Regions from separate parts of the Homo sapiens genome. Here region 1 is linked to region 2. The links come from fine-mapping of genetic effects on gene expression. Tissue or cell type: fibroblasts. Region 2 holds a variant in brackets; the other region holds the start of a gene. All regions are shown on one strand. Distances are from middle to middle.

Region 1 (2,625 bases), 300 kb before region 2:
ATTAGTATAACAGAAACATTTGACTTTTGTTAGCTAATGTTCAGTGTGAAAGTTACATAGAGGATAAACGTGGAATCTACCTTGTCTTAAGAGCCCTTCTGAGATCCTCAAGAGCAATGCCGGAAAACTTGGCAGATCTCAGTCTAAAAGGAGGTGAAGAACTCAGCACCCCTAAAAACAACCATGAAATTATGCTATGAAAACGTGAATAACTCAAGGTAAGATTCATCACATCGTTTTTTACTCTTCATCTTCAAACTCAAAGCAAATCAATGAAAAGGACCAAAATGTGTTAAACATACTTGCCACCTTTCTCAGTACTTTCATGGTATCCACTGCACGCTTCAGATTATACTTAGAGAGATACGCGATACGGGGCGGGCAGGGAGGGGGAGTAATATACAACATACGGCACATTTAAGAACAGTTAACTACCAGAAAATAGCTTCTCTGAGTTTCACAAATACGGAACTCCATTCACCTCTCCATCCAGAGGAATCCATCCCTGGGGACAGCGTCTAGACACTGTTTCTAAAAGTGTCTTTTCTGTCCCTGATCTGCTGGAGTGGAATTTGGTTATCGGAGAGTAAGTGATTTGCTGTGGGTCTTGAAGGCACCTTTCCAATCTCTTCAAGTGGTAAAAGAAAAGGATTCTCCATGCTCCTCCACCCACCTCTATCAAAACATCCAGTCATTTTAAAAGAAACAGCTGGGAAAAGAAATCATCCTTCTGTTTTGGAGCGGGGAAGACAGTTAAGGCAGCGACGCCTCCCCGGGGAGCCGAGGCGAGGGCGCACGCACGGCTTCCTCAATTGCCAGCGGTGGGCGCAGGGCTCCGGCGCCCCTGTCAGCTCCCGCTCCCTCCGCCCCTAGAGACCTTCACGGTTTCGGTCAAGGCGCTCCTGCTGCCACCGAGGGCAGGAGGTGGTGCTGCTGGTGGGCACTCCGTCCCGGTTTGGGCTCCGGTGATGTCGGGGCCCTTCCCTGCCTGCCTACCTGGCCTTCCTGCCCCGCGATGGCGTCGTGGCGGCACCATGAGCGGACCGGTCAGGCCCCGCAGCCGCCCAGCGCCACGGCCGCGGCCTCGGACTCACAGAGCTGTCACCGCGCCTGACATCGCGCCGCACTGGAGGCCCAGCTCCTGAAGACGCGGTGCCCCTCAGGGAGAGGCTCCCGACACCACCCAACTCCACTCGGCCCAGGAGGGCGTGGAGCGGGTGAGGGGAAGGGACGGCACAGTCAGCTATGGCCGCGGAGGCCCGGAGATCTGCTCTGGCCCCGGCCCCGCCCCCGGCTTGCCCTCCGCGCGGCCCCGCCCCCAGTCCCCAGCCCGGAAGCGGTGGCGCGCGGGTGACGTCATAGGGGCGCGACGGCGGACTGCGCGCGGTCGCGTATGCAGCGAGGCTTGGCGGAGCTAGGGGAAGTAATGCGAGGCTCTGGTCGCCGAGCGAGGGCTCGCGGCGGCGAGGCGAAAGAAGAGAGAAGATAGGAAGAAGGGAAGTAGGGCGAGGTGGAGGAAGAAGAGGAAAGCGAGCGTGGGTGTCTGGGGCAGAGCAAAGGACGAGGGAGTGGCTAAACCTCCGCCCGCCTTAGAACGAAAGCTGGCCGTTCCGTTTCACAAACTGCGAACCTGAAACTTCGGATATCCCTTTCTCGATGACAGCCGAAACGCAAAGTGGCTTAGAGTACTTTTGATTCTTGAAACCTTTTGTATATAAACAAGATCTCAGCTCTAGGAGTTACAACCTACATCCTAGGCCAAGCTACTTCAACTTCTCTGGTCCTCGGTTTCCTTGTCTACGATAATGATAGTACCTGCCACATTGGTTTTTTGTGTGTATGCTAGGATTGCATGAGTTTACATATGTGAAGGACGTAGATCAATTCATGGCACATAATAAGAACCTCACAGACGTCAGCAATTTTTTGTTCGTTCGTTTGTTTTGAGACAGGGTCTTTCTCTGCCACCCAGGCTGCAGTGCAGTGGCACAATCACAGCTCACTGCAACCTCTGCTTCCCGGGCTCAAGCGATTCTCCAGCCTCAGCTTCCAGTGTAGCCGGGACTACAGGCGCAAGCCACCAATGCCCGGCTAATTTTTATATTTTTTAGTAGAGACAGGGTTTCGCCATGTTGGCCAGGCTGGTCTCGTACTCCTAGTCTTAAGTGATCCGCCCGCCTCGACCTCCCGAAGTGCTGGAATTACAGGCATGAGCCCTGCCAAATGTTGGCAGTTATTAAACTGTATAGATTTGTTCCTTAAATATTTTGACTATTCCATGAGAAAGGTTTGTCCAGCATCTTGATTTCTATCTACAAAACAAAAACAAGACTAAAGGGTTCAGTAATTTAACATCTTGGTCAGATGGCGTGAAGAAATTAAATTTTCTTACTCCTATAGTCGCGATGTAGTGTACCTCTTACCTTTTAAGTCTCGTTTCAGTGAAGTTGAATGCATATTCTAGCAACTAATAAAACAATACCAATGAACATTTTTTAATTGATCGAATCAGTTTCAAACTATCAGCATCAAACACCTCTAATAAGTCATTCAGAAACCTATTGTGCAGAGTAAAAAAAAAAACCAACCAGGCCGGTCGCGGTGGCTCATGCCTGTAATCCCAGC
Region 2 (2,762 bases):
GCAGAGATGGTTGGTGACGGATGGTTGGGGAAAAGCAGTGCTGGCACGTGGGCCATGTATTAGTCAAACCAGAGACAGAAACATTTCTGTTAAAAGAAAAAATACTGCAGATGTAAAAATCATTGGCAAATGTATATGGTTTAGGCTCAAAGGTCTGTATTATTTATTATGAAAACATTGAGGGCACACATTACCGGCCAAACGCTTCACTCACCAAAGAAGGATCTTAGAATAATCTCCGTGAAACTTCTGACTTTAAATTTAGCTGCGTCGTTGGAATAGGCCCACTAGGATGAGTTTTCCATGAAGTGCACTCTTAAGTGCACTTATGAATGAAATTACTTTATGGGCAAGCTTGTTTATGGGAAATTGGATATAATGTGCCAAATGCAACTATCTGAGCCCTTGTGCAATGAGAAGCTGAGCTGCTTTTTTGGACAATAACCAGCCAAAATGTTCGAGTACTTCTGATACTATTAGCGACATTATTTGAGCTTTCCACATGCTCCGGACAGTGTCCTAAGCGCCTTGTGAGTCTTAGGTTAATCTTCATAATCCCTATCTGGTGGGTGTTACTGTCATTCCCATTTTACGGATGAAGAAGATGAGTCAAAATGAAGTTAATTATCTTGGCCAAGGTTACACAGTTGGTAAACGGGAGAGTCAAAATTCAATCCTGGGTAATCTAACATTATAGACTCTATGGTGCAAAGTGTAGCAAGAGGGGGCTTTGGAAGATTAATTGTATGACAGTTGTTTGATGCCCACACAACACCTTCCTCACCAAGGATGTCTGACTTGGGGTGGGAATCACACAACAGGTGAGTTCAGGGTGGGGTTTTTATAAACCTGACTCTCTACTTCTAGGGTTGAGAGCTACAGAGTCTGATACTGCTTCACTTGTCTCTTTCCATGACAGAGACATTACAGAGATACTGATATTTGTGTCACGTCTAAAGTTCTGAGGTGAGATGGAACTTGTAAGTTTAGGAGAGATTCCTTATCCAGTTCCTCAAAATAAACTGCAGTGATGCTACCCAAAGAAGTGGAAAGATGCTGCTAGTTGGGAAACAGCACCTGTCTGCTACAGCATGCATCCAACTTGCCCAGCAGCTTAGCGTACCAGGAAAGCAGCTCATTAAATCGTCTCAGACATGGCCACGTTTAGCACCATTTAC[A/C]TGTGAGATTATTTCTGCCCTGGGACTATCACTCACTCCCTACTCAGATTTCAGCACCAAAATGTCAAACTGGCCTTTTCCCCTCCTATTTCAATTACCACTGTCCTAGATGGATCCCTCATTACTCCTTTCTCAGGTTATTGCAGTTGCTTTCTATCTGCTGTCCCTGTCTCCAGTCCCCTTACTCTTTGATTTTGTCCTAAGTACTCATTTAATAATTAGCCTCTATAGCACAGATTCTATCCTGTTACCCTCAGCTGAAATTTAAGAATTTCTTTACTTCTTTTGAATGGTTTTAATGATTCTCTAAAACCTTTCCTTTGTCTATTTATCTAATTTTCTTTCTGGTGACTTCTCTTGACACATTAGGCCTCTCAGCTAAATGTTGAATGTTCTCTACCCCCTTGCTATTGCTTATACTATTTTCTCTAACTGGAATATTTTCAATTTCATCTCATAACAATTCTACTCATCTTCTGAGGCTTACACCAGATAATGAGTCTCTGAGATGCCTTCAGTAATCAACTATATTTGCCCATATGGTGTTGCTGTGTTCTCAACTCCCTTTTATGTATTGTTTCTGTATTGTTTAGGATATTTTGGATTGCAGAAACAGAAACTAACTTTAGTTAATCTAAGGAAAAAGATAATTTGTGTACAGATATAGAGAGTGTCATAAGCCACAAGGGCAGGGATGCAGTTAGTCAATTGGAAGATAACCAGGAAGCAGAACATTTACAGAATCCCTCTCTGTCCATGTCTTTGTATTTACCCCATTCTCTCTCTTTCTCTGCAGAATGATTTTCTCTGCTTCTCTATTCAACATGCCAACGTTTCCAAATACAGCTTTTGATAGGATTTTCAGTCCAATCCTTGATTCTCAGGAGAGTAATACAACTGGCCTGTCTTGAGGAATATGTCAGGCATAGGTCCAGTGGGCTGTGGCTAGTGAGGGGCGTTATCATGCAAACGTAGCTGTTGAGGACCATCTGAAAAGTGGGGGGGGGGTGAGTTTCTGAAGAGATGGGGCATCAGACAATTGGGGCGGATCAATAATTTAAAAAAGTTTCTGCTACAGTCTCTACTAGGTTTTCTTAACCTCAAGAATACAAACGATATTCTCTTTCTTATTTGTTTAATCATCTCCAAACTCTCATCTTCCCAAGGTCTAAATATGGCTGGTCATATAGTGACACTCTGCAAAATAAGGCAATTTTGTTAAGGATGATACATGTAGGAGAGTAACAAGTTGTTAAATGTTATTCTTACCCTCATCTCAGATTTTCAGTGAAGATTCCAAAGGCTGAGAACAAACCATCTACTGCCAAATATCCACACTCATAAGACAGTGTGCTAGACAAGACCACCTGAGCAGAATGTGCAAGGAGGCTGTGAAGTTGCTTCTGTGCTCACTGGCCTACCACCCACTTTCAGCAATTGTAGGGGGAGAGACAGAAGAAGAGTGGAAAGAGGATTTCTTCAGAGAGACCTGAGAGGGTTCTGTGCATTTCTTCCACCCTCATTAATACTTTTCACTGATTTTAAGCCAATGAAGAAGGGATTCAAGGAAATTACTCAGAAAGC

The links. PIP is the estimated chance that this variant, and not a neighbour inherited with it, causes the effect.
Region 1: it holds the start of SLC35F5, and the variant in region 2 is fine-mapped to the expression of SLC35F5 in fibroblasts (GTEx, PIP 0.97).

The regions. Positions count from the first base shown.
Region 1 is chr2:113,755,374-113,757,998 of GRCh38, forward strand. SLC35F5 (solute carrier family 35 member F5) reads right to left here and starts at 1,269. Exons shown (of 16, transcript NM_025181.5): 1 at 997-1,269; 2 at 81-171. The coding sequence starts at 1,036. RefSeq lists a silencer at 1,195-1,424 and enhancers at 1,635-1,814, 1,995-2,044.
Region 2 is chr2:114,050,933-114,053,694 of GRCh38, forward strand. No RefSeq gene overlaps it. Among named protein-coding and RNA genes, the nearest start is that of LINC02992, 72 kb to the left of the region's middle. The variant A/C (reference allele first, on the strand shown) is at 1,179.